Regions from separate parts of the Homo sapiens genome. Here all the other regions are linked to region 3. Evidence: fine-mapped expression QTL. A gene starts in region 3. Each other region holds a variant in brackets. All regions are shown on one strand. Distances are from middle to middle.

What was found. PIP is the estimated chance that this variant, and not a neighbour inherited with it, causes the effect.
Region 1: its variant is the best candidate, but not a certain one, in a credible set for the expression of NBL1 in naive CD4 T cells (Schmiedel 2018, PIP 0.74).
Region 2: its variant is the best candidate, but not a certain one, in a credible set for the expression of NBL1 in thyroid (GTEx, PIP 0.81).
Region 4: its variant is the best candidate, but not a certain one, in a credible set for the expression of NBL1 in whole blood (TOPMed, PIP 0.78).

Annotation. Positions count from the first base shown.
Region 1 is chr1:19,489,835-19,497,782 of GRCh38, forward strand. It overlaps a transcript of LOC105376819 not described here. Among named protein-coding and RNA genes, the nearest start is that of CAPZB, 8.3 kb to the left of the region's middle. The variant A/G (reference allele first, on the strand shown) is at 2,085.
Region 2 is chr1:19,530,617-19,538,763 of GRCh38, forward strand. It overlaps LOC124904816 (small nucleolar RNA U13), which reads right to left and starts at 1,658; the gene lies at 1,554-1,658. LOC105376819 (a long non-coding RNA gene) reads left to right here. Exons shown (of 4, transcript XR_947020.3): 4 at 885-1,171. The variant A/G (reference allele first, on the strand shown) is at 3,996.
Region 3 is chr1:19,641,497-19,646,496 of GRCh38, forward strand. It overlaps NBL1 (NBL1, DAN family BMP antagonist), which reads left to right and starts at 2,815. Exons shown (of 4, transcript NM_005380.8): 1 at 2,815-2,950. All of the region lies in intron 1 of MICOS10-NBL1 (MICOS10-NBL1 readthrough), which reads left to right. RefSeq lists an enhancer at 1,827-2,662 and a silencer at 2,561-2,900.
Region 4 is chr1:19,683,232-19,691,360 of GRCh38, forward strand. TMCO4 (transmembrane and coiled-coil domains 4) reads right to left here. Exons shown (of 16, transcript NM_181719.7): 16 at 1-213. Among named protein-coding and RNA genes, the nearest start is that of HTR6, 22 kb to the left of the region's middle. RefSeq lists an enhancer at 5,817-6,331. The variant T/C (reference allele first, on the strand shown) is at 5,103.

The DNA of each region.
Region 1 (7,948 bases), 150 kb before region 3:
AAAATACCAAAATTAGGTGGGCATGGTGGCACATGCCTGTAATCCCAGCTACTCAGGAGGCTGAGCCAGGAGAATCACTTGAACCCAGAGGTGGAGGATGCAGTGAGCAGAGATTGCACCACTGCACTCCAGGCTGGGTAACAGAGTGATACTCCATCTCAAAAAATAAAAATAAAAATAAATAAATGGAGATATCAAATAAGTAATTAGATATGGAAGTTTGGAGTTGGGGGAAGAAGTTAGAGCTGTGATAAACTTATGAGAACTGTCAGCTAGTAAATGGCATGTAAAGATACTTGAAAGCACAGACATCTTGGTGAACTCACTTTGTGGGTGAATGTAGAGAGAAGAGGTCATGAAGATAAAGAGGAACCAGCAGAAAGACTGAGAAGGAATGACCCGCGAGGCAGGAACAGGACCAAGAAAAGGTGGTGTCCTTCTTGGATACCAAGGGATGGAGGCCAAGCCTGAAGGAAAGTTCATTCACTGGACAGGTCACTCCACAGATTGGCTGCCCACTGCTCAGATCCTGCCCCTAGATCCATCAGCTATTGCTATGAGCATGGAGACACATGGCATTAAACATGGTCATCTACAAGGGGTTGTGAATTGGTATGCAGGCACTATAAATTTTGTTTATTTTAAAATTTTTTGGCCAAGCATGGTAGCTCACGCCTGTAATCCCAGCACTTTGGAAGCCTAGGTGGGAGTATTGCTTAAACCCAGGAGTTCGAGACCTCACTGACAAAGTGAGACCCCGTCTCTATAAAAAAGTCAAATAATTAGGCATGGTGGCACATGCCACTGGTCCCAGCTACACAGGAGGCTGAGGCAGGAAGATTCCTTCAGCCCAGGAGATTAAGGCTGCAGTGAGCCATGATTGCACCACTGCATTCCAACCTGCACAACAGAGTGAGACCCTCGTATCCAAATAAATAAATAAATAAATAAATAAATAAATAAATAAATAATAACTTTATAATTTAAATAGGGACGGGATCTCACCATGTTGGTCAGACTGATCTTGAACTCCTGGGCCCAAGTGATTCTCCTGCCTTGGCCTCCCAAAGTGTTGGGATATCAGGTGTGAGCCACAACATCCAGGCCATAAATATCTTTAGCAATGTTTCTCGTCTCATCCTCTTTTAAAGACCCTAACCCCCTTGAAGTTCATACTGTGATATTTTTCCACCTGCCACACCCTTTTTTTTTTTTTTTTAGCTTTCATGAACTTACCTCCATCTCCCCTTCTACACTTTCTTTAGGACTTCAGCATCCATAAGCATAATCCACCAGAAATCTTACTGACTTCTCCCTGATTTCTTCCCTACCAATCAGTTTCCTTTGCCTCTCTCCAGGTCCCACTCCTGTGGTCTTACCCTGGCCTGTTCTCGCCTTTAACTGCACTATCTCAGAAATCACAATCACACTGGCCAGGCATGGTGGCTCATACCTATAATCCTAACACTTTGGGAGGCTAAGCCCAGGATTTTGAGACCAGCATGGGCAACATGGCAAGACCCCATTTCTATAAAGATTTTTTTTTTTAATTAGCCAGGCATGGTGTCATGTACCTGTGGTCCCAGCTACTTGGAAGGCTGAGGTGGGAGAACCTCTTGAGCCCAGGAGGTTGAGGCTGCAGTAAGCTGTGTTTGTGCCACTGCACTCCAGCCTGGGCAACAGAGTGAGACCCAGTCTCCAAAAAAGAAAAGAAATCACAGTCACAAAGATCTCAAATCTGAGTCTAACCCGCTTACCATAGTATCACCACAAAAGCATTTCCTCAACCTCATTATTTCTTCAACCTCATCAAGACCTGCAAACCTTTGTCCCTGCCAGATTTTCACAATTACCTTCCCCTTCATGCTCACATCCCACCTGACCCAGCTTAGTAATGAGTATGATACTAACTCCCTTACAAAAGCCCAGAACCCTTTTACCTCCACCTTTTTTCATCAGAACATCTGAACATTGGCTGGGCAAGGTGGCTCATGTCTGTAATCCCAGCGCTTTGGGAGGCTGAGATGGGCAGATCACTTGAGGCCAAGAGTTTGAGACCAGCCTGGCCAATATGGGGAAACACT[A/G]TCTTTACTAAACATACAAAATCATCCAGGCATGGTGGTGGGCGCCTGTAATCTCAGCTACTCAGGAAGCTGAGACAGGAGAATCGCTTGAACCCGGGAGGCAGAGGTTGCAGTGAGCCAATATCACGCCACTGCACTCCAGCCGGGGTGACATAGTGAAACTCCGTCTCAAAAAACAAAACAACAACAACAACAAAACCATCTGAACATTGCTGGAAAGTTGAAAGTGATTGCTCTTCCTTTAAGGTGAGGTCCACAAATTTCAAACGAGCCCTCAAGCCTGCCTAGCAATTCTACTGTATTACTCCACTGTAGCCCCCTGCTCACACTCTTAAATGGTGATTTTTCATCCTTCTTCCTCCTCAAGCTTCCTTTGTCCCCTTTGCATCCTTCTCTCTAAGCAGATGGCCTTGCCTCACACTTCACAGAAATAATGGAACCAGACAGGAGCTTATCATCTACCAACATCTCTGCACCTTCCCCGCAATCTTTGACTCCCCAGATTTTACAATAAATGAAGCGTTTTTGTTCCTATCAGAGTCACCCCTCCACTTGTTCTCTGGATCCTTCCTTCCTTAGTCACCAGTTTCTCCCTTGGTACTGGATCATTCCTATCTGCTTCAGAAAACATGCTCTAATAGCTCCTATCATAAAAAAAAAAAAGTTTTAAGAACCACCACTCAAAACTCCTGGATCCTGCGTCTCCCTGTAGCCACTTCCCCCATTTTTCTGCTCTCATTCACACCAAAACCTTGTAAATTCTTTGCAGTTGTTGATTCCACACCTGCTCCATTTTCTCCTCCAGTCAGTCTGATCAGGCCTCTGCCCCCACCTGCCCAGGAAGAGACATTGCTCTCCTCAAGCTGACCTGGGAACTCGATGTTGCAGAAGCCAGTGCTCACTTTGGGGACTCATCTTACTCCTGGCTTCTCCTCCTTCATGTACCTCTCTTGGCTTGCCTGAGATCAGTAAGGCTACCACATCCCAGCACATAGCATGGCAGTTACACATAGTAGGGGCCCATAAGCATTTCCTGATTGGAGGCAAGGTGGAAAGGAAGCCTTCTCCTGGTGCTCAAGTTTCCCCTGAGTTTCCTTTGATGGTTCTTCCTTTCCTGAAGGCTTAGTTCTGGGACCCTTGTTCTTCTGCATCTGAGTCCTCTTTTGGTCATTATGGACCTAGGTGTTCACCTAGAACATAATCAGTGCTCAATGAAGGTATGTGAATGAAGATAATAGTATCAACAGGATAAGATTATTGTGTGAATAAACAAAGAATGAATAATACAGCTACTTTTTCATGAGTACTTGCTATGTGCTAAGCACTTTTTGTGTATTATAGACTCCTCCCAACCATCCTTTGAGTTAGGAACTTTTTTTTTTTTTTTTTTTTTTTTTGGAGACAGGGTCTCAGGTTGGAATGCAATGGCACAATCTCGACTTACTGCAACCTCCGCCTCCCAGGCTCAAGCAATCCTCCCAACTCAGCCACCTATGTAGCTGGTACCACAGGTGTGAGCCACCACTGCTGGCTAATTTTTATATTTTTTGTAGAGACAGATTTTTGCCATGTTGCCCAGGCTGCTCTCAAACTCCTGGGCTCAAGCGATCCCCCCACCTCAGCCTCCCAAAGTGCTGGGATTATAGGTGTGAGCCACCATGCCTGGCCAGAACTTTTATTATTACCAATTTATAGAAGAAGTTGGGTCTTAGATGAAATGACTTGCCTAAAGTCACACATAATACGTGGATGGATTTATTCTCACTTTGGTCTTCCTGACTCAAAATCTGTTCTCAGAATCACCAGATTGAGATCATAGGTAGGAAAGGGCTTTGTAAGCTGCAAAAGGCAGTGCTACCACATCCCGGCACATAGAATGGCAATTACACATAGTAGGTGCCCATAAGCATTTTCTGAATTGAGGCAAGGTGGAAGGGAAGCCCCAAGCCATATAATACCATCACCTGAGGAAGGAAGCAGCAACCTTGAGGTCCTTGAAAGACAGCCTTCTACCCTATGCCAAATCAGCTCATACAGGACCCATTAAAGCAGACATTGCCCAGAAGTTGCCCAACATCTGTCTTTCCTTCTTCAATTACATCTATTAATTGGGTTAATAAATGCACAGTTATCCCAGGAGCTGGGGATTGCCTAGCTCCTAAATTACCTCCCGTCTAACAGGTCTGGGCCTGTTTCCTAAGTTGGGCATCTTCTCAAGTTACTAACACGGTTTTAGGTGTTTTACCGTGTCTTTAGAAATGCCTGAGAACCCTTAGAATAAGCCAGATTTTAACCCCTCAATACACTGAATTCTACAGCTAGCCGTATTGCCTGAACATCCTAACTCCATATACTGAAGTTTCAATGGGATTCAATTTAAGAATCTTTGTTACCGGCCGGGCATGGTGGCTCATGCCTATAATCCCAGAACTTTGGAAGGCTGAGGTGGGCGGATCACCTGAGGTCATGAGTTCGAGACCAGCCTGGCCAACATGGTGAAACCCCATCTCTACTAAAATACTTAAACTAGCTGAGCGTAGTGGTGTGCACCTGTAATCTCAGCTACTCAGGAGGTCGAGGCATGAGAATTGCTTGAACCTGTGAGGCAGAGGTTTCAGTGAGCTGAGATCACGCCACTGCACTCCAGCCTGGGTGACCACAGAGACTCTGTCTCAAAAAAAAAAAAAAGAATCTTTGTTACCAAGAGTTCCAAGAGGGAGGGAACACCACATGGCAAGGCCATCTGCACCATCATTCAGTTGGCTTCGAGGTCACTGCTGGGGTACCTCCCAGGTATGAATACCGTCTCTTTCCTACAACTTAACCCTGTCTCATTTTCAGACATTTAGTTTGGGTGGGGTTCAGCCCACCCCCAGCTCTAGAAGAGAGGATTCTGATTGACCAAAGTCAAAGTATAGCCTTGGCCATGCTAATTGGTTTGCAGATCAGCCCCTGACCTAATTTGGGCCAGGGTGCTTTCTGCGGAACAGTAATCAAAATGAACTCGGCCTGAAGAGGGGCAGTTCACCAAGTAAGTTTGGGAAATCCTGTAAACAATATTCCCTCTTGGGGATTTTATTTTCTCAAGAACCTTACACTTCAATTATCCTGTCTCTCCCCAGATTGTTCAACTAATGATTACTGTGGTTTTAAACATGCCTAAGTGTTCTGATTTTTTTTTTTTTAAAGAAAGAAACCTACGTGAATTCCTCATCTTCTCCAGCTTACCGCCACCTCCTCCCTTTCCCAGCTGGAGAATTGTCTGTGTTTCCTCCTTCCACTTCCTAACCTCCCATTCGCTTACGTAACTCCTCCACTGAAATAGCTCTGAGGTCACCCATAACCTTCATGTTGAAGGTCACATGCACAACTTTCTTTTAAATTTTTTTTTTTTTTTTTTTTTGAGACAGGGTCTCGTTTTGTTGCCCGGGCTGGTCTCAAACTCCTGGGCTGAAGCACGAAGCACTCCTCCCTTCCCAGCCTCCCATAGTGCTGGGATCACAGGCATGAGCCACCTTGCCGGGCCACATGCACAGTTTTCAAACTTCACCTCCTGTAACTTCCCAGTAGCCTCTGGTGCTTTGGCCACGTCCTCCCTCCTTGAAGCACTCTTTCCCATTGGCTTCCATGACATCATGTGACTCTCCTAGTCTTAATCCTACCTCTACGCTCCTTCTCTGGGTTCTCTGGAGACTCCTTCTCCTCCACACACCTACTAAACGATGGAGTTCCTTGAGATTTGGTAGCAGGTTCTTTCCTTCTCTAACTTTGCCCTTTTTCCTTAGGCAATTTCAGCCATGTTCATTTCTTCAGTTACCAGTGGCCTCAGCCCTGGAGCTGGCAGATGGGGACCTGATGATCAGGGAGGGAAACTGTTTCCCTGATGATGGGGGAAATCAGGATACTGTTACCAAAAGAAGGAGAAGGGCTGCTGAAAAGTAGAGAGAAGGAAAGAAAGAAACAGATGGGCATTACGGGCATCCTGAGTAAGCTCTGGCAAGTGAATGAAACAGACTTATTTGTGGTCTCAGAAATTTCTAGTCATTGAAACCTTAAGCAGGACTGAGTACAGGCCAAAAAAAAAAAATGCTGATTTCCTTTGAAGACAGAAAATTGTGTGGTTTGTAGAGGAGGCAGCCTCAGCTAGACAGCTTAGATCAACTTTTTCCAGCCTTCAGCATCTTGAAAGTACATGTAGCAGGGAGCAGGGAGGTGGACAGACCACTAGCAATCCACTTCTTTTTAATGCATCCCCAAAGTCTTCAGTGCCAAGAGGATACTTTACTCTGAGGTTAGACACAATCATCTCAGGGTTTTTGCTTTTGCTTTTCTAATAGGTACCTGGGAGAACTCACAGCTGCCTTCTGCTGGACCAGAAGTATTTGTATCCTGACCATCTACGGGGTCTTGGTCAGAGTTATGGAAGGGCCTCTCACATGCAGGCCAGCTGTTGGAGTTTTTATATGCATATTTGGGAAACTTCACGTTTAGTGTATTAAGCTGGCCAGCCAGTCACCCACCAGGGTTGGGCTGGACTCTACAATGTGTCTAATGCTGACTCTTCCTTTAGATTCAGCATAATCACCCTCTTATCCTGGTAATATCTCTGACAGTCCCCTCAAAAGCTGGGTTTGGGACCCCCTGTTCTGTGTTGCCATGGAAACTTCTACTTTGTGTACCTTATCAGATCACTTTTCACTTGGTCCCTACTGCGCTATGGCTCCTTGAGGCAGGGACTGTGAGTCATATCACTAACAATTAGCATGGAACCTGGGATATGGCACAATATGAATGAAGCCTGTCAAATTGTGAGCCAGAGAACCTCCAGTCATCCAGGATGCAAACCTCAGCCATCCTCTACTTCTCCAAAATCCTCATCTCTCATTCCAGTCAGACACTGCAGTGTTCCAAATGAAGCTAAACTACATGCAGAACTGACATAGGACCTGATAAAGTGGTAGGACTTGAGAAAAATCTAGTGAAAGGCTGGAATAAAAGATCAGAGCAATGAACAATTGTAAAATAAATTTAAATATCTTTATAATAATATCAAAAAATATAAAATACTCAGGAGATATAGATATATATATATTTTTTTTTTTTGAGATGGAGTTTCACTCTTGTTGCCCAGGCTGGAGTGCAATGGCATGATCTCGGCTCACCGCAACCTCCGCCTCCCAGGTTCAAATGATTTCTCCTGCCTCAGCCTCCCTAGTAGCTGGGATTATAGGCATGTGCCACCATGCCCGGCTAATTTTGTATTTTTAGTAGAGACGGGGTTTCTCCATGTTGGTCAGGCTGGTCTTGAACTCCCGACCTCAGTTGATCCGCCCACCTCGGCCTCCCAAAGTGCTGGGATTACAGGCGTGAACCACCGTGCCCGGCCACTCAGGATATATTTAATGAAAGATGTACAAGGCCTGAAAACAAGAAAACATTGCCAAGATAAATTAAAAATCTAGATCAATAAGATGTACCCTATTTATGGATTGGAAGATTCAATATCATCAAGATGTTCATTCTCCTGAAAATGTACCATAAATTCAATGCAATTAAAATCACAATCCCGGCAAGTTTTTGTATATAAACTCACAAACTGATTCTTTTTTTTTTTTTTTTTTTTGAGTCAGTGTCTCACTCTGTCACCCAGGCTGGAGAGCAGTGGTGCAATCATTGCTCACTACAGCCTTGACCTCCCAGGCTCAAGCAATCGTCTCACCTCAGCCTCCCAAACAGCTGGGACTACAGGCACATGGCACCACACGTGGCTAATTTTTACAATTATTTTTAGTAAAGATGAGGTCTCACTATGTTACCCAGGCTGGTCTTGAACTCTTGGGCTCAAGCAATCCTCAGCCTCCCAG
Region 2 (8,147 bases), 110 kb before region 3:
ATAATAACAGCCCCCACCTCAAAGGGTTATTGGGATAATTAAATGAGATAATTAAATCCAAAGATCTTTGTAGTACTGGGCACACAGTAAGTGCTAGATAAAGGCCAGCAATTGTTGTTGTTATTATTATTATTATTATTATTGAGACAGGATCTCACTTTGTCACCCAGGCTGGAGTGCAGTGATGCAATCTTGGCTCACTGAAGCCTCTGCCTCCGAGGCTCATGGTCCTCCCACCTCAGTCTCCCTAGTAGCTGGGACTACAGGCACACACCACTACATCTGGGTAATTTTTTTATTTTTTGTAGAGATAGGATTTCACCATGTTGCCCAGGCTGGTCGCAAACTCCTGAGCTCAAGCGATCCTTCCGCCTTGGCCTCCCAGTGCTGGGATTACAGACATGAACCACTGTGCCCAGCTAGCAATGGTTATTTTAATTATAATGGTGTTTGTTCTTGAGCCCTGTAGCATATAATAGAGTTTTCCAACTGCACACAGTAATGGTCAATTAATAGCTGTTGAATGAGTGGATGAATGAATGGATGGATGAATTAGTGAATGAATCTTGCTATCACTGTCAATCTAGGACTCTTTTCTTCATACTAAATTCCCATTGTCCTAATGGCAGCAGGAGTTTTAGCAGCCTCAAGACTTTCAGGTTTCTTGTTTCTTTTTGATTTGATGAGGTGGTTTAAGATATGTCCACAATTTGACACTTCCTTCAAAAGGTGGACCCTATTTCCCTTCCTCTTGACTGTGAACTGAATTTAGTAACTCATTTGTAACAAACAGAATAAAGTGGAAGTGACAGTGTACAACTTCCAAGACCAAGGTCACAAAAGACCTTGAGGCTTCTGTCTTGGTCTCTCTCTCTCTCTCTCAGATTGCCTGCTCCTGCAGAGGGCTGCTGCCATGTCATGAGCACTCTCAAGCAGCTCTAGCGAGGGGTCATGTCATGAGGAACTGAGACCTTCTGCCAATAGCTGTGTGAATGAGCCATCATGGAGGCAGGTCCTCCAGCCCCAGTCAAGCCTTCAGATGATGGCAGCCCCAGCTGATGATTTGACTGCAAACTCTCATGCAACCAGGAATAAGAACCACTCAGCAGAACCACTCCCAATTTCCTGACCCACAGAAACTGTGAGATAAATAAATATTGCTTTAAGCTGCTGTGCTTAGGGATAATTTGTTACACAGCAATAGATAAGTTATACATTTTGTATGACTTTTTTTTTTCTTTTTGAGACAGGGTCTCACTCTGCCACCCAGGTTGGAGTGCAGTGGCATGATCACAGCTCACTGCAGCCTCAACCTCCCAGGTTCAAGCGATACTCTTGCCTCAGCCACCTGAGTAGCTGGGACCACAGTTGTGCACCACTACCCGTGGCTAATTTTTTATATTTTTTGGTAGAGACAGGGTCTCCTTATGTTGCCCAGACTGGTCTTGAACTCCTGAACTCAAGCAATCTGCCCACCTTGGCCTCCCAAAGTGCTGGGATTACAGGTGTGAGCCACCATGCCTGGCCCATATATGACTTTTTTTTTTTTTTCAGGTTAGACGGGTAATGTGACAATGTTGTAACAAGGTTCAGAGAGTGGCAGATCTCACACATACACATAAACACCCAATCATCATGCTCATGAACTGCAAAAGGATCTTATATGACTATTCTTGATAAAAGGTTGTTGAACGAATTCTTTTCTATCAATCCTTCCTCATGGAGACTTCGGACTGTTCATTCTCCATATTATGTTAGCACTATTCAGAAACCCTGAATCCCACACATTATTGGTGATGTTACTGTTACTAAACCATGCCTGCTAACTAATGAAGGACCCCCTACCCCTTAAGGTCTCAGGTGGGCTGCATCCTGACCTCCGATGAACACCAGACCTCAGCGGGATTGGCATCACCAGATCCCTGGCTGGGGAGGAAGATTCAGGCTCCATAACAAGCAGGCTTCTTTCCAGTCAGTAGCTCATATTTGGAAGGCTCGTGTTGTATATTTCAGCAGGGCCCATCTCAGAGAGAATATTTCCTTACTCACAGCTCTCACACTGTTTTAACAACAGCTAATCCTTTCACCTTATTTGGATGCGATGTCAGAATCCCTTCTGTGGCTGGCGAAGTCTCAGCACTAACTGGAGAGAAGACTTATAGGCCTTTGCATCTGAAGACAAACTCTGCCTGAGGTGGAAAAGAGAGGCTGGGAAGAGCGTTGAGGTTGACATTTGACAGCCTCATCAGCTCAGGGCTGAAAAAGACAAGCTGGCCAGGTGCAGTGGCTCATGCCTGTAATCCCAGCACTTTGGGAGGCCAAGACAGGCGGATCACTTGAGGCCAGGAGTTTGAGACCAGCTTGACCAACATGGTGAAACCCCATCTGTAATAAAAATAAAATAAATAAATAAATAAGATGGGCTGGCTAGCTCTCTCTGTTTCACCACGAGGACCTTAGCCAGGCTGTCCTAAGGGTATGGCGGTGTGGCTAAGGCCAGCCAGTTCAACAGTCTTTAACCAAGCATGTGCTATGCACCAGTCACTGTAGACAAGGCCAGCACACAAAGATGAGTAGCCAAGGTCCTTGCCCTTGGGGAGTTCATGGTCCAGTTGGGGAAGACAAGCAAACCAATTAGTAACAACAGTTCAGAGCAGTAGCTGCTGCATTCACTTGGCCAGGTGCAGCGGCTCTTGCCTGTAATCCCAGCACTTTGGGAGGCTGATGCGGGCAGATTGCTTGAGCCCAGGAGTTTGAGACCAGCCTGGGCAACATGGCAAGACCCTGTCTCAAAAAAAAAAAATACAGAAATTAGTTGGGCATGGTGGCACACGCCTGTAGTCCCAGCTACTTGGGAGGCTGAGGAGGATCGCTTGAGCCCGGGAGGTCAAGGCTGAGGTGAGCTGAGATTGCACCACTGCACTCCAGCCAGGGCGACCAGAATGAGAACCTGTCTCAAAAAAATAAAAAACAAAAAAACCCCAGAGCAGCAGCAGAGGTGTACTGCCACGCCAGGTGAACTGGGGGCACAAGACAGGGGAGGCCAAGGGAGGGTTCCTGGACTCTTGGAGGCAGTGTTTCCTGAGCTAATTGTGAGGCGAGAGAAGTAACCACACAACAGAGGCTGGGAACAGTTACCTAGGCAGAGGGAAGAGACTAAGCCAGGCCTCACCAGCAAGGCAGGAAGTGGAAGGAGGAGCACCAAGTGCTGGGTGAGGCTGGGGGTCAAGTGGGAGTGAAGTGGGAGGGGCAGGAAGCGTAGCTGGAGGAGAAGGAAGTGTCCAGCGGAGGAGAGTCTTGCATCCCACGATACAGAGCTAGCGTTTCATCTTGGACGTGATGGGCAGTCACTGAAAGGTTTTGAGCAGAAAAGGGACTCCATTAGGTTTGGGTTTTAGGATGTTCATTCAGTCAACCCTGGGGAGGGTGGATTTGAAGACTGGAAGCAGAGAGGCCAGTGAAGAGGGACGCTGCCATCACTTGTGCAGCCAAGTGTGATGAGGGTCTGGAAGTGGCCTTGGAGATGGAGAGGATGGGATAGATCCAGGGAATAACAAGGCTTATCAGCCAGGAGCCAAGTACAGGGAAGGGTATTTCCTGGCTGGAGGACTTTGAAGGCTGGGGCAGGGATTCCTCTGCATTCTTGGTCATAGCTTCTGAGACCTGGCTGGCAGGATCTAATTTAGCCTCCTCCGATCCCTTGTAGAGTCTAGCTGGAACACTAACTGCCAAACTGGATTTGATATTAGAAGAGGTATCACTAAAAGAGGTCTATAAACCCACACCCAGTGTGTGGCGAGGATCCCGCGACAGGATGAAGTGCAGATTTCTTGTGGAGTCTGCATTCTGGCTGCTTCTCTCCATCTGCTCTTGCCCTCACCTGGATCTCAGCCAACATCTTTTCTTGCCTAGACTACTGCAGTAGCTTCCTAACTGGGTGGCTCTTTTCTTTTAATTTCTCTTTCTTTTTTTATTTTATTTTATCTTACAGAGAC[A/G]AGGTCTTACTATGTTGCCCAGGCTGGTATTGAACTCCTGGGCTCAAATGATCCTCCTTCTTTGGCCGAAGTAATCCTCCCTTCTTGGCCTCCCAAAGTGCTAGGATTACAGGTGTGAGCCATTGTGCCTGCCCTTTTCCTTTCCTTTCTTTTTTTTTTTTTTTTTTGAGACAGGGTCTTACTCTGGCACCCAGGCTGGAGTACAGTGGTGCAATCATGGCTCACTGCAGCCTTGAGCTCCTAGACTCAAGCGATTCTCCCACTTCAACCTCTTGAGTAGTTGGGACTACAAGTGCATGCCACCACCATGCCTGGCTAATATTTTAATTATTATTTTTTTTTTTAGAAACAAGGTGTCACTGTGTTGCCTAGGCTGTTCTCAAACTCTCAGCCTCAAACGATCCTCCCACCTTGGTCTCCTGAGTAGCTGGGATTACAGGTGTGAGCCACCATGCCTGGCTGGTTGATTCTTTTCTACCCCTTACTTACTACTCTGGACCCCTACATTCGGGCCTAACAAGGCAGCCATTGTGACCCTTTAAAAATACAAATTAGATAATGTCACTCTGCTACTTAAAACCCCTGCAAGGTCTTCTATTATTGTTTAAATCCACCCTCATTTCCATGGCCTAGCAGCCTGTGTGTCTGCCCCCTGACCACCCCTCCAAGCTCCCCTCCTGCCCCACTGACTTGCTCCCTTGTCCCATCCACTGGCCTTCTACTGTTGCACAAATATACCAAACTATTTCCCACACAGAGCTACCTATTCACTCAGCAAGTGCTTATGAAACACCTACTATGTGCCACACACCGTACTTGGTGCTGAAGAGACAGGAATGAAAGGCATGCAAATCCCTGCCACTGGGAAACTTACATGCTAATGAAGAAAGACAGACCGTAAACATGACAAGTAAACAAATATAGTATGTCAGGCCAGATGTGGTGGCTTACGCCTGTAATCCCAGCACTTTGGGAGGCCAAGGCTTGAGAATCACTTGAGTCCAGGAGTTCAAGACCAGCCTGGGCAACATAGTGAGACCCCATCTTTACAAAAAAAAAATGAACAAAATTAGCCAGGCCTGTGGGGTGCACACCTGTAGTCCAAGCTACACAGGAGGCTGAGATGGGAGAATCACTTGAGCCCAGGAGATCAAAGCTGTAGTGAGCCATGATTGTGCCACTGCACTCCAGCCTGGGCAACAAGAATGAAACTCTATCGCAAAAAAAAGAAAAAAAAGTAGCAAAATTTCTTTGCTGTAATATAAGCTCCACTGAGGTTAGGAGCCCTGTGTTTTTGACCCATTATAAACCCAGACTTAGAAGACAGTTCAGCCAATTGTCCAGCAATTGTCCAGTACATGCTCAATAAATCACTGGCTGAATGAAAGAAGCAGGGACATTCTATAATTATGATTCCTTAAACCTTACGGAGTATGGAGAACTGTGTTTTGATGTGGGAGGAATAGCCCCAGGAAACTTGTGGCCATTGGGCTAGAGGTAGGAGAGGTAGAGAAGAACCTAACAAGATTTCAGAGAGAGAGAGGAGGAAACCTAAAAGAATGCCACATCTAAAGACTTGGGGTATGGCTAGGTGCGCTGACTTATGCCTATAATCCTGGCACTTTGGGCCGTGGTAGGTGGATCGCTTGAGCCTAGGACTTCAAACATCAGACCGGGCAACATGGGGAAACCCCATCTCTACAAAAACAAAAACAAAAATTAGCCAAGCATGGTAGCTCACACCTGTGGTCACAACTACTGGGGAGGCTGAGATGGGAGGATCACTTGAGCCTGGGAGGTGGAGGATGCAGTTGAGCTGTGATTGCACCACTGCACTCCAGCCTGGGTAACACAGTGAGATCCTGTCTCAAAAAAAAAAAAAAAAAAAAAAAAAGACTTGGGGTGTATTAATTATACATCAATAAAATTGTTTTTTAAAAAATATGTGAATTAGAATGGCCTTGAACTTCTAAATAATAACATTAGAAACTAGAAGGCAAAAAACAACAACAAATGGTATCTTCAAAATACTCAAAAGTCAGCTCTAGTTGACTTAATTAGAAAGGGAATTTATTAAGAGTGAAAAATATCATTAACATAGAATTTTATTCCCAGCCAAGCTATCAATTGGATGTGAGGCAGAAGGAACATAATTTCTTTTTTTCTTTCTTTCTTTTTATTTTTTGAGACAGTCTCACTCTATCGCCTAGGCTGGAGTGCAGTGGTGCGATCTCGGCTCACAGCAACCTCCGCCTCCTGGGTTCAAGCGATTCTCTTGCCTCAGCCTCCCGAATTGCTGGTATTACAGGCACGCACCACCACTCTCAGCTAATTTTATATATAATATGTGTGTGTATATATATATATATATATTTTTTTTTTTTTTTGAGACGGAGTCTTGCTCTTGTTGCCCAGGCTGGAGTGCAGTGGCGTGATCTCTGCTCACTGCAACCTCTGCCTCCTGGGTTCAAGATATTCTCCTGCCTCAGCCTCCCGAGTAGCTGAGATTACAGGTGTGTACCATCACGCTCGGCTAATTTTGTATTTTTAGTAGAGATGGGGTTTCTCCATGTTGGTCAGGCTGGTCTCGAACTTCCGAACTCAGGTGATCCGCCCCTCCCCACCCCGGCCTTGGCCTCCCAAAGTGCTGGAATTACAGGCGTGAGCCACCGCACCCAGCGGGACAAGGTCTTGCTCTGTCACCCAGACAGGAGTGCAGTGGTGAGATCTCAGCTCACTGCAACCTCCGCCTCCTGGGCTCAAGCCATTCTCCCACCTCGACCTCCCAAGTAGCTGGGGCTATAGGTGCACACCACCATATCTGGCTAGTTTTTGTATTTTTTGTAGAGACAGTGTTTTGCCATGTTACCCAGGCTGGTCTCGAACTTCTGACTTCAGGTGATCCGCCCACCTTGGCCTCCCAAAGCTCTGGGATTACAGGCATGAGCCACTGCGCCCGGCCAGTAGCTCATTTATTTTTATCACTGAATTAATATTCCATTGTGTGGATGTGCCAGTTTGTTCATCTCTTTACCTGTCAAAGGACATCTTGGTTGCTTCCGAGTTTTGGCGATTATGAATAAAGCTGCTATTCATGTGCAGGTTTTTGTGTGGACATGTTTTCACCATATTTGAGTAAATACCTAGCAGTGTGATTGCTGTATCATATGGTAAGACTATGTTTAGCTTTGTAAGAAACTGCCAAGTTGTCCTCCAAATTGTCTGTACCATTTGTATACCCAACAGCAATGAATGAAAATTTTTGAGGTCAGGTGCAATGGCTCATGCCTGTCATCCCAGCACTTTGGGAGGCCAAGGCGGGTGGATCATGAGGTCAGGAGTTCGAGACCAGCCTGACCAACATGGTGAAACCCCATCTCTACTAAAAATACAAAAATTAGTCAGGCATGGTGGTGCACGCCTGTAATCCCAGCTACTCAGGAGGCTGAGGCAGGAGAATCGCTTGAACCCAGGAAGCAGAGGTTGCAGTGAGCCCAGATGGTGCCACTGCATTCCAGCCTGGGCGACAGAGCGAGACTCCATCTCAAAAAAAAAGTTTTTGTTGCTCTGCGTCCTCACTTGCATTATCAGTGCTTCGGATTTTAGCTGTTTTCACAGATATGTAGTGATATCTCATTGTTGTTTTGATTTGCAATTCCCTGATGACATACAATGATGAACATCTTTTCATTTGCTTATTTGCTATTGTCTTTCTTCTTCTCCCTTTTTTTAAAAATTTTTTTTATTTGAGACAAGGTTTCACTCCCATCACCTAGGCTGGAGTGCAGTTGTGGGATCTCAGCGCACTGCAACCTCCACCTCCCGGACTCAAGCAATTCTCCAGCCTCAGCCTCCTGAGTAGCTGGGACTGTAGGCGCACGTCACTATGCCTGGCTAATTTTTGTATTTCTATTGAAGTTTTAGTAAAGATAGGTTTTCGCTGTGTTGCCCAAGCTGGTCTCGAACTCCTGAGCTCAAGCGACCCTCCTGCCTCGGCCTCCCAAAGTGGTGGGATTACAGATGTGAGCCACCTTGCCTGGCCTCTTCTTTTTTCTTTTCTTTTCTTTTTTTTTTTTTTTTGAGACAGAGTCTTGCTCTGTTGCCCAGGCCAGAGTACAGTGGCATGATCACAGCCCACTGCAGCGTCAACTT
Region 3 (5,000 bases):
CAGCTCATCAGGCTCCACAATTAGCTTTCTGCAATGTGGGAGTGGATTCTTACAAAATGTAGAACTCTACTTTCTACCCTGCTCGGGGTCTGCATGAAAGATGGCGGGGGTAAGCTTTGGCTGCAAAATGGTAAATATTTCCTGAGTGTCTACTGTGTACAGTGCAGTGAGGCTGGTTTCTGCCGTACATGGTATATAGTTATCCAACAGACACTAGCTGGCATGGGCTCTTACTGTGTGACTTTAGGCGAGTTACTTAACCTTTCTCTTGACGTTCCTTTTTTCACTTTTTTTTTTTTTTTTTGAGACAAGGCCTTGCTGGAGTGACAAGCTCATTAGGTTCCACAATTAGCCTTCTGCAATGTTGTCCAGGCTGGAGTACAGTGGCACAATCATAGCTCACTGCAGCCTCAAACTCCTGGGATCAAGTGATCCTCCAGCCTCGGGATTTTTTTCACTTTTATTATTTTATTTGTTTGTTTGTTTATTTATTTATTTATTTGAGATGGAGTCTCACTCTGCCTCCCAGGCTGGAGTGCAGTGGTGCGATCTCGGCTCACTGCAACCTCCGCCTCTCAGGTTCAAGTGATTCTCCTGCCTCAGCCTCCCGAGTAGCTGGGACTACAGGCACACGCCACCACACCTGGCTGATTTTTGTATTTTTAGTAGAGAGAGGGTTTCGCCATATTGGCCAGGCTGGTCTCGAACTCCTGACCTCAAGTGATCCTCCTGCCTTGGCCTCCCAAAGTGCTGGGATTACAAGCATGAGCCACTGCGCCTGGCACTTTTAAAACAGAGACAATACTTACCTCATAGGTTTATTGTGAGAGTGGCAACAGCTTGCAATGGGATGAGGCACATGGTAAGGTGCTCAATATGTGTGAACTATTATAACGGTCATAGTTACCATTAAGGGAAGACCTATCTGTGCTACATTAATGGGGGATAATAATTACTTTATTCGCTGGGCGTGGTGGTTCATGCCTATAATCCCAACACTTTGGGAGGCTGAGGCGGGAGGATCACTTGAGGCCAGGAGTTGGAGACCAGCCTGGGCAACATGGCAAAACCCCATCTCTACTAAAAATACAAAAACTAGCTGGGCGTGGTGGTGGGCGTCTGTAATCCCAGCTACTCGGGAGGCTGAGAATTGCTGGAACCTGGGAGGCAGAGGTTGCAGTGAGCCGAGATCACGCCATTGCATTTCAGCCAGGGCAACAAGAGCAAAATTCTGTCTCTAATAATAATAATAATAACAACAACAACAACAACAACAACAACTTCATTCAACCAAATACATTGTACATCTCACCTGGCCTGCCCATAAGCAATGGAGACACTGAAATAAACACGATTCCTGCCCTCAAGGTCTAATGGAGGAAAGAGATGTACACAGCTATTCTAGAGGGAAATTGACATGAACAGAAGTTCTCATCCTGTGCTCCAGGATCACACTGGAGGAGGGAGATGCTCCCAGAGGGTCTTGGGAAGGCTTTCCAATCTGGAGCTGGAAGAATGTTTGCCCAAGAGATGTACACAGTTATTCTAGAGGGAAATTGACATGAACAGAAGTTCTCATCCTGTGCTCCAGGATCACACTGGAGGAGGGAGATGCTCCCAAAGGGTCTTGGGAAGGCTTTCCAATCTGGAGCTGGAAGAATGTTTGCCAGAGATGAAAGGAGGGGAAGGGAATTCCGGGCAGAGGGAAGGGCGCAGGCAACAGCTAGGAGGCGCAGATGCAGGCTGGGTGTGGAGGGTGCGAGTAGGCTGGAGTACACCAGGGAGTTCCCAGCAGGCCACTAGGAGCCACCCAGGATGCCCGGCAACCTCATGAGTCAGACAAGCAGGGCTGTGTCTATCTGGAAGTTTCCAGCCAAGCTAGGTAAAACACATGGACACAGGTAACTATGCTGTAAAGCAAAATCCCCAAGTCCTACAATCGTGTCCCAGTGGTGTCCCTGGGCCACCACTTTCCAGAAGCAAAGTTATTTTCTCACCCCGTTGTTAAGCACACAGAATAGAGAAGGTACGGCCGCAATCCACCCAAGTGCCCACTGATTAGATAGGAACCCCCGAGGTGAGGCTGGAAGCTGGGGCCAGGAGCTCCACTCTTCCCAGGAGTCAGAGAAGTGAGTTCATTTGCTGGCTTTTTAGTTCCTAATAAGTCCCTGGGGCTTTTCGGGATGCTTAAGCCAAGGGCGTGGGGCCGAGAGCGACACTAGGATAACACTAGGCAAGGCTGAGCAACCCAGGCTACCAACAGCACGGACTTGAACCGGGTCGCATGCCGGAGCGGACGGGATGAGGTGCACCGCAGAACTGGGGACTCCTGGTGCCGGGACGCGGCGGGCTGGGGCGCCCCACTCTCGGGGCAAGTCTGCAATGCCCGGTGCCCACAAAAAGGACACATCCATCTTTGTCACCCCGAGGCCTGGCACGGCCTGACGGCCCAGGCTCGGTAAAAGTCGGGCGGAGAGAGTGGAAGCGCAGAGAAACCCGGGGAGGGCGCTTAAGAACGGGCCAGGGCGCCCGGCTGGGCTGCCCTGCCTCTCGGGCGCCGGCCAGGCGTCCCGGCCGCCCCACCACGCCGTCGGAGCGCGCCGAAGCTCAGCCCGGGGCGGGCGGGCCAGGAGAGGGCCCGGGGCCCCTGCCGCCGCGGCGCCCCCTCCTGCGCACCCGGAGGGAGAGGCCGCGCGCGCCCGCCCGCTCTTTCTGCGCGCGGCCCTCCCCGCTGCCCCCGCCCTCGCGCCCTGTTTGGAGGGAGCCACCCTGACGTCGGAGCCGCTCCCCCGCGCCGCGCGCCCGCCCGGGGCCGCAGACAGCGCGCAGCGCAGCCCAGCCGAGCGTCGCGGGGCCGCCCCCCGCCCTGCCGGCCGCCTCGCCGAGCCTCCTGGGGCGCCCGGGCCCGCGACCCCCGCACCCAGCTCCGCAGGACCGGCGGGCGCGCGCGGTAAGTCCCGCCCGGGTCGGCACGCGGGCGCCCGGCTTCCAGAGGCTTCGGCCGCGGGGGCAGTGCCGCGCCCCCAGCCCGGAGCTGCGTCCCCCGGCGCGTCCGGCGGCCGCGGGCACCGGGTGGAGGCGCCGCCGCCGAGCTCAGGAGCCCTGGGGGACCTGGCGGGCGCCTCCGGACGCCGGCGCTGGGGACGTGGGCGCGGCACGGGGTGGCCGGGGGGCACCGCCGCGTCCGGAGCCCGTCCCCAGACTCGCCCCAGGGTTCCGTTTCTGGATCGGAGTTTCCGCGGCCGGGGGAGAGAGGGAGCGAGGGAGGGAGATGCGTGGCCGGGCGGGCCGGGCTCGCATGTCCCCCGGCCGTGCCCGGGCCTCGCCGCGCCGCGCCTCTCGGCTCTGGACGTTTCCGCCTCCCGCGGCCCCCTCTGCTTCGGTCCCCACGTCCGTGTGTCTGTCTCTCCGTCGCTCCGTTTCCGCCGCTCACTTTCCCCTGGTCTGCCCGTCTCTTTCCGTTCCCCGCCTGCCTCCGTGTTCGGCTGCCCGCGTTTGTGTCTCTGCCTCTGGCTTTTCTCTCCCTCTCTCTGTCTCTGCGCTGCCCTCTGTGGGGGTCTCGCCCTGTGTCTGCGCCTCTCCCTGATCCCCCGCCCTCCGATCCAGACAATCCCCCAGTGTCGGAGGCTCGCCTTCCCCCAGCGGGGTTCACGAATAGTTTCCTAGACCGGGTGCGGCAAACCCTCCCCCTGCCTCCCGCCGGCCCCGAGGCCTGGCCCGGGTCATCTCCCTGGAATTGAGTCTGGGGCAGGGAGAGCCAGCCTTTCCGGGGGCTCAGTTTTCTTAAGAATTCCACCCCCGCGAGGCCGGCTGGACGACAGGCCCTGCTGCGGGCCACCTGCCCGGCCCGCTCCCAGGGCGGGGCGATTCTGATCGTTTACAAGCGGCGGCAAAGGGGGCAGCCGCCTGCCTTGGCGTGGCCGGAGGTTGGCGGGCATCAAGGGAGAAAGCCACACTTCCAGGCTTTCGGAGGCCCTCGCTCCCCAAGCTGGACGCCACCAGCCTGTAACTAGGGGCACCCCAGGAAAACAGAGGTCAGGGCTGGAGGCCAAAGACCGGGCGCTGGCGGGGAAGCAATTTGTCAACAAGGAGCCCCTCACCCTTTGTTACTGCGGAATGGGGCCTCCCTAGACTCCCCCAGATGCTGGGGCTGCTTGGGCGTGGTTTGCCTTGAGTTGGGGCCAAAGAAAAGGCGAGGCTGCAGCGTTTCCTCGGTGACCCCTACCCCTCTCCACCCACCCCTGCAAGCTGGACCTCTCTCCCGGGCCTGTGTTTTGGAGGGGTGGACAGGGGAGTAGGTGTTCTGCATCGGCCAGGGATATCGCCTCATTATTTTAAAGTGAAATTTCAGGCTGAGTTTAGCTGCTTCCCCCCACCCACAACCTCAAGGGTCGGAGGCTGCCGGAGCGGGCAGGGTTGTTGGTGAGGTCTGCAGTGGAACTTCTGCTGAGCAGATGTGCAGCCTGGCCCTGCAGCAGCTCATTAGCATGGATTTGTTTTGGAGACTGTTTTTCGTTTGCGGGCAGGAGGGTCTGCGGTAAGGAGGGCCGTGGCCTGGGTTTGGGGGCTGGCACAGAGGTGGTCAGGGCTGGAAGATGCAGGCAGGCCTGGGTGGCACGGGGTCGGCCCTGTGTGTCCGCCCTCTGGACAGTTGACTCATGCTCTCCCCAGTGCTGAAGGAAGGAAGGAAAAGCCACCCTGCCGTGAGACTGGGGTCGTGGAATCACAGCGGCCTTAAGCAGTATGCTGGAGCCAGGCTCCTCCCTGGGGGATCTGCTGAAATGGACGTTCCCAGGCCAGGCTGCCCATTTTACAGATGCAAACGTGAAGCTGAGGGGGGAAGCAAATGGTCAGTGGCTCGAGCTATAACCATTAGACTCTCCTGACTCCAGGCACACAGAAAGCCAATGTATGAGCTTTGGCCAGAACTCATCCTCAAACCCCAGAGTGAGCCCAGGAAACCCGGTTGGGCTGACCAGAGCCGGGGCCTGACCTGGGTG
Region 4 (8,129 bases), 43 kb after region 3:
GGAGGTGTCTCCGGATATGGGACCCTGGGTTTGCCCAACCTGGTGGGGGGTCTCGCCTGATGAGGCGGCAGCTGCTGCCTGGCGAGGCTCCTCGGAGGGCAGGCAGCCTGGGGCCAGCAAGAGCCCCTTCTCGTCCCAGCCTGGCTTGGTGCGGATGCCCACGGCCTTCAGGATGGCATCCATCTGCTTGGCATAGTCCAGGTGGCCGCTGACCTGCAGGAGACAGTGAGTGAGCACCACCGTGGGTGTGCAGAGCCCAGCCCTCCCCAGGGACCTCCGGCCAAACTTCTGGGCCTCAGCCTTGCCCTGAGCATCCACAGCCAACGAATCACCAAACCCATGACTCCATCCCTCAGTGGCTCTCAAATCCAGAGTGGGTGGGAAGGCTCTATGTTCAAAGCTGTTCTAGAATTTATTAAATAAAGATGAAGGATGTTTCTCTAAAAAATCTGGATCCTTTTGGGGCAGGAAGGAATCTCCTGATAAACAGAAAGGTGGAGTAGAAGCTCTCGTTCTTTGTCTGAAGCTTTTTTTTTTTTTTTTTTTTTTTTTTTTTTGAGACAGGCTCTTGCCCAGGCTGGAGTGCCGTGGCGCAATCTTGGCTCACTGCAACCTCCACCTCCCAGGTTCAAGTGATCTTCTTGCCTCAGCCTCCTGAGTAGCTGGGATTACAGGCGTGTGCCACCATGCCAGTAATTTTTTGTATCTTTAGTAGAGAAGGGGTTTCACCATATTGGCCAGGCTGGTCTCGAACTCCTGGCCTCAAGTGATCCACTGGCCTTAGCCTCCCAAAGTGTTGGGATTACAGGCGTGAGCCACTGTGCCCGGCAGCTTTTTTTTTTTTTTTTTTTTTTTTTAAGGGATGGGCTTTTTGTTAAAATAGCATGAGAAAAAAGAAAAATGAAAACAGAGAGAGAGAGAGATGGGTTCTCTCTCTCTCGTCCAGGCTGGAGTGCAGTGGTACAACCATAGCTCACTGCAGCCTTGACCTCTTGGGCTCTAGTGATTCTCCCACCTCAGCCTCCTGAGTAGCTGGGATTACACGTGCATGCTACCATGACTGGCTAATTTTTAAATGTTGTAGAGATGGGGTCTCCTATGTTGCCCAGGTCTTGAACTCTTGGCCTCAAGAAATCCTGCTGTCTCAGCCTCCCAAAGTGCTGGGATTACAGGCCTGAGGCACTGTGCCCAGCTGATGCCTGCAGCTCTAGGCTACTCCAGAAGGGCTCTGCTGTTCACTAGTTGTGACACCTTGGTCAAGCCCCTCTACCCCTCTACCCCTCTGGCTCTCAACTTCCTCCGCTGTAAAAAGGGGAACACAAGGGTAGTTTCACCAGAGGTTGGCTGTGAGGATTTTCCCTGGAAAAGTCCTCAAATTGGAAAGAAAGCTACAGCATAGACTGCAAGGTGCTGGCTACAACTCACTCTGCCGTTTATTCTTTAGTCACAAGGACTCACATTTATAGCTGGGCACACTCCCCAGGCTTCCTTGCAGCTAGGAATAGCACTGTGACTAGTTTTGGCCCATGAGTTGAAGCGGTAGTGTGATGTGGTGTTCCTTGGAATTCTCTTTAAGAGGAGGAGTGCTCTTCTTCCCTCATGTCCTCTTTCCTGCTGGCTGGAATTCAGACGAGATGGCCAGAGCTTGAGCAGCCATCTTGGGCCATGAGTCAGCCCACTAAGGAAGGCAGAACAAGCAGCAAGAGGGAAATTTGGTCCTTGAAGACTGTGGAGTGGCACATCAGCCCTAAATGGCCTATTCTGATTTCTTTTATGTGACAGAATCAACCCTAGTGTATTTAAGACAATTAGGCCAGGCACAGTGTCTCACCTCTATAATCCCAGCACTTTGGGAGGCCAAGGTGGGAAAATCACTTGAGCCCAGGAGTTTGAGACCAGCCTGGGCAACATGGGGAAACCCTGTCTCTACAAAAAAATACAAAAATTAGCTGGGCATGGTGGCGTGTGCCTGTAATTCCAGTGACTATGTAGGCTGGGGTAGGAGGATGGCTTGAGCCTGGGAGGCTGAGGCTGCAGTGAGCCCTGATTGTGCCGCTGCACTCCAGTTTGGGCGACAGAGCAAGACCCTGTCTCCAGAAAAAACAAACAGACAAAAAACATTAGCAGGGCCTCTGTTATATGGGTCTGCATCTTAACTAAGACAAAGGCCAAGAACTCAGAAGTGGCCACCCCCTTCGTCAGAGTCATACGTTCATCCCATTTTTGTGTTGGGATATGTTGGTGAGCAACAAGTAGGGGTGTGATTGAAATGCCTGATGCCTAGATGTAATAATGGACAATGCCTGACACGTAGTAGGTCCTTAATACATTGCAGCAAATAAGCTTCTTGGATATACTCCTTTGCTAGGTGTCGGCTGCTCACTGTAGATGAAATTGAGCCACACGGAGGTAAAGTGACTTACCCAAGGTCACACAGCTAGAACTTGGCAGGGCTGGGATTTGAATCCAGGCCTGTTTCTTTTTTTTTTTTTTTTTTTTTGAGACAGAGTCTCGCTCTGTTGCCCAGGCTGGAGTGCAATGGTGCAGTCTTGGCTCACTTTAAGCTCTGCCTCCTAGGTTCATGCCATTCTCCTGTCTCAGCCTCCCGAGTAGCAGGGACTACAGGCATCTGCCACGGTGCCCGCTACCATGCCCGGCTAATTTTTTTTGTATTTTTAGTAGAGACAGGGTTTCACTGTGTTAGCCAGGATGGTCTTGATCTCCTGACCTCATGATCCACCCACCTCGGCCTCCCAAAGTGCTGGGATTACAGGCGTGAGCCACTGCGCCCGGCCATCCAGGCCTGTTTCTAAAGCCTGTTCTCTTCAGAGAAAATCAGCTGGGGAAGGAAGGAAGGTTAAAAATCATCCTCACTTTACAGAGAAGGGCAGCAAAGCCCAGAGAGGGGTGGCGGTTTGCTTAATGACACACAGCGCATGAACAGCACAGTCTGGTGCTGAGCCTGAGATGCTGCCTGCAGAAGCTGCTCAGCCTGGATCTGCCCCTGAGATGGAGTCTCACGTTATACCCAGCCAGTCGAGGGGGCCTGCTTTAGTGCCAAAGATGCGCATGAGACCGGACTTTCCTTTAAGGCTGAAGGGGAAGGCTTTCTTTTTAAAAAAAGGACAGGAAAAACACCAGGGAGGCTGTTGTTGGGAATCTCAGAAAACAGCACAAAGACACTGCTGGTAACATCTGCATTTCCATTTGAATTGCAAATCACACTGTATTAATCAAATGATTTTTCAAAAACACGAAAAGACAATTCCCTGTACAGTTTTGTTATTTTCTCACCACTAGAATCTGCCCACCTCTCGTTCCTTTCCTCACGAATGCTTTTAAACAGATTCCAGGGAAAATACACACACGTGTATTCACACATCTAAGTGGTTTTCAGGGCCCTGGGCTCAGGGTGGTTGTCAAGGCACAGCCAGTGCCCCTCTGCAGCAGGACACATATTTAGTGGCTGCAGGGCCTGAGAAGGAACCTAAGTTTGGACTCTCTGAAAAGCTGGGGTACCAGCCTTGGCTCTGTCTCTTACCAGTAACTGGGCCAGTCCTCACAATTTCCTGAACCACAGCTTCCCCATCTGTAAAATGAGAGTCATGACCTTGAATGATTGCTATAAGGAGTTCAAGGGCCTGGCACTTCATAGGAACTCAGAGAATGCTAGCTTTTGATATTATGTTCCTATATGATCCAAAACACTTTTTGTTTTTCTTAATTTTTTTTTTTTTTGAGACGGAGTCTTGCTCTGTTGCCCAGGCTGGAGTGCAATGGCATGATCTTGGATTACTGCAACCTCTGCCTTCCAGGTGCAAGCTATTTTCGTGCCTCAGCCTCCCAAGTAGCTGGGATTACAGATGTGCACCACCACACCTGGCTAATTTTTGTATTTTTAGTAGAGACAGTATTTCACCATGTTGGCCGGGCTGGTCTCGGACTCCCAACCTCAGGTGATCCGCCTTCCTTGGCCTCCCAAAGTGCTTGGGATTACAGGCGTGAGCCACTGCACCTGGCCTTTTAAATTTTAAATGTAGAGATGGGGACTTCTTATGTTCTCCAGGCTGGTCTCAAACTCCTGGGCTCAAGAGATCCTCCTGCTTCAGCGTCCTAAATTGCTGAGACTATAGGCATGAGCCACGATGCCCTGCCCCAAACACTTTTAAAGAGACATCATGCAATTTGAGTTAGTGATACCTACCTAAAGGAGTTGCTGGGAAGAAATAATACAAACCATGAAGCACAGTGCCTGGCACCCCAGGAGGTACTCTGTAAATATGAGTTCCCTTACCTTAGTTTCCTACGAGTGGGGGATGGAGAGTAGGGAGTTAGCTGGGCTGATCCATTTGGGAGCCCAAGATGGCTGCTCAAGCTCCAGCCATCACATCTGAATTCCAGCCAGCAGAAACTTCAGACCCACAGGGACAAGTGATAACTGCCTCTCTAAGGACAAACAAGAACTGCCTCCCTATACCTTTTTAATGTTGTAGATGGCTGGTGCCAGTGCTGGGTAGAAACAGGCCAGGAAGGAAGGGAGGTGTTGGTACCCACTGGCTGCAGCTGATACCAGATGGAAATTCCACTGAGAGCTGTCCTAGAACACACAGCTCTGGCCCTCCTCGACTACAAGTTGGTCTGGGTCTCAGGCAACCCTAGTCCCTGAGCCACCCCTCTGCAAAGACCCAGGGGAGCAGTTGCTGGGCAGAGCTCTGGTTTTACAGTTAGCTGGAGAGATGAGAGAAGAGGGGTGAGGCAGGTCGGGAAAGAGCCTCTTCTCAGCACCAGAAAGTTCTGGTGTAGCCGATACTGCGTGAAGATTCAGCCCCTGACCATCTCCCAGGCTGTCTTGATTGAATCTGCCAGCTGCCTGGATACACGCCGGATGTGACTGGCGTGCAGAAGCCTTCCGTGGCTTCCCGTGTTGGCAGGGGCCTCTGTGGACACCCTGTGATGGCACTCATAACCTGTCATCGTCACATGCTCATGAGGTTGCGTTCCCTGATAAACTGAGCGCAGGGGAGCAGAGACCACTTCTCACTCACCTCTGTGCCCCACAGCCAGCCCCGCACATCGTGGGGTTTCCGTGGGAACCAGATCCC[T/C]GCAGGTACAAATGGGGCCCAGCCCTTCCTGTTTCCTGCCTCAAAAGACACCCCAACTTACCCAAACAGAGGCTGCCATCACCCACCTCCATCTGCCCCAGTGACTCCTTCCAAGCCCATCAGGCCCCTTTGGGTTCTTTCACTTCTTGGACCTCAATTTCCTCATGTATAAAATGAGGCTAATAAAGAGACCTATACCACGTGGGCTGGCTGTGTGGCTTTGATAATACATGTAACAGGCTTATTGGCACAGGGTTAGAGGCCACTACCAGAAGCTACAGAGATGTGTGAATGCAGGCAGTACTGAAGCAGTGGTTAACAGCCCAGGTTCATCCGGCTCTACCACTCACATGCCGTGGCACCGCCTGCAGCCTCAGTTTTCACACCTGTACAACGGGTTACTACCACTATGCAGGACCTCTATGAGGATCAAATGACTTACCCCGTAAAACATGTGAGTTGTTGGCTACTGCGGTTATTATCAAGTATCTACTTTGTGCCAAGCCTTTTGCTAAGTTCTAGGCCACCTGGCATTTCTGCTGGGACATGGAGAATCTTGCCGTGGGTTGGATCTCTGTGCCCCAGAAGCCTCATGAGTTGGTCCCTGGGGTGGCAAATCCCCCACCCACTGTAACCTTGTCCCTGTGAGGAGAGACTGAGGGGCAGGAGGGCAGCTTCATTCACCCCAGAGATGCGCCCTGCCTGCAACAGGGCCAGCCCAGTGGGATGATCACAAAGGGCCCTGCTGCGTGGTTGGCCCAGCAGGGAGAAGACAGGTCCTGTGGGTCTCTGTTGGGAGCAGAGGGTGGCCAGCATTTCCCCAACAGCAGTAATGAAACCTCCCTTGCCAGCAACTTCTCCAGCAAAGCATTTTCAAGGAAAACAGGAGGCCAGCACAAAGGCAGTGCTAATTACCTCTAATTACCCAGAAGAGGAAAGCACTGTTTTTTGTGATGTACTCCTAATGTGATAAAGAGCTATTATTAGGCAGGAGCTGGGAAGCTGCCACGAAGACAGCCTGAGGAGGGAGCGGAGTCTCCAAAACTGCTGGTCCCAGAGGCAAACAAACTGGGGGTGGTGGCAGGGGCAGGCCGGGAGGGACTAGGATTAAAGGAGGGCCTACTATGCACCAAGCATCTTACATGCGCTGCCCTGGAAGTTAGGCGTTTCCACCATTTCCTAGATGAGGACACTGAGACACAGAGAGGTTAAGTAACTGGCCCAAGGTCACACAGCCAGTAAACCAGTGGCAGAGCCAGGATTCTAAGCCATGCCTCTCTGGTGCCAAAGGCTGTGCTCTTCCTACCATATCCCATTCCCAGTAGAAATCAGATCTTGTGAGGGCTTTGCAGCATTAAAAGCTACTTTCTTCAGCAGATGCTTTTTATCTCTGATTCTTCTGGCAAAGGGAGACTCCTGGGGTGCTGAGGCACAAAGTCCCTGCTCCCTTTCACCCCATTCAGGGTGCAGGCACCTTGAATAGGACAGAGAGCCCTGGACATGGGTCAGGAGGCATCAGCTCTGAGCCCTGTTGATGGTGACAGGAGGCAGCCAAATGCCTAGGCAGACGGGGTGGGTCCCTGGTGAAACCCCACCTTCAAGCCAAAAAAACAGCCTGAAGGCTGAAAGACTGGACTGCTGGTCCCACATGAAACCTGTGACCCAGAGTGAGAACTTCTGTTCCTGTTTGCCCACACTTCCCCTATTCTGAGCCCATAAAAGCCCCAGACTCAGCCACATTGTGGGGACTTTCCTGCCTTTGGGTAGGGGAACCATCCACTCATCCCCTCTCTGCAAAAAGCTGTTTCATCACTCAATAAAACTCCTCGCCTTGCTCACTCTTCAATTATCAGCGTGTCCTCATTCTTCTTGGATGCTGGACAAGAGCTTGGGACCCACTGAGTGTGGGTACCCAGAAAGGCTGTCATACTGGCCTTTTGCCCTCATCAGTGGAGGGCAGCTGCCCCACGTGATGGGGTCAGGGGCCGACTGAGCTGTTAATACACCACCGTCTATTGGGCCGTCAATGGTGGAACTAAAACAGCTAATTAGCACACTAACGCCCCCTCTGGGGCTTCAGGGTTGTGGGTACCCCTGCCCAGGTGCTGCCACTTTCCCCTCGAGGCAACACGCCTGGTCTGGCCACAGGCCCAGCATGGAGCTTGCTCTTGTGTCGGTGTTTGGAGTGGTCAGCCAGAGCCCACACTTGCTCATTCATGTGCTTCCTCCTGCAAGGGGCTGAGTGTGGTGGACCGAGTAGATGGGGTGCCCCTGCTGCAAGTGTGGCCAAGGGGCTGAGAGAAAATTCCTGTCACTGTGGTTTGCTGGTCTTGTGACTCAGCTTACCTCATTCCCACAGAGAAGTGGGCAGCACAGCTTCCAAGCTGGGCTCAGAGTCCAGACCTACAACTCTGGCTATGACTCCATGCTCCCAAGTCTCAGTTTCCCAATCTATGATCTGGGGATGCTTAATACCTCCTCTAGGGAGTTGCGAGGTTTACAGCATGTGAGCCAAGTCTATCTGTGAAGACTCTTTTTTTTTTTTTTTTTTTTGAAACAGAGTCTTGCTCTGTCACCTAGGCTGGAGTGCAGTGGTACCCTCTCGGCTCACTGCAAGCTCCACCTCCTGGGGTCATGCCATTCTCCTGCCTCAGCCTCCCGAGTAGCTGGGACTACAGGTGCCCACCGCCACACCTGGCTAATTTTTTGTATTTTTAGTAGAGACGGAGTTTCACTGTGTTAGCCAGGATGGTCTCGATCTCCTGACCTCGTGATCTGCCCGCCTTGGCCTCCCAAAGTGCTGGGATTACAGGCGTGAGTCACTGCACCCGGCCCCTGTGAAGACTCTTTAACCAGGAGCAACCAGTTTCATAAATGGATGAGCCTAGAAATGACTCTTATTCTACCCCAGTCCCCAAAGCTCCCAGTTAGGAAGGCACAGGGTGGCTTCATTTGTGATCCTCTGGTGGGTTAGGAATTTTGTCTTAAGGCCCTGGAAGTTTAGGGGTGAAGATACAAGTGAACTGG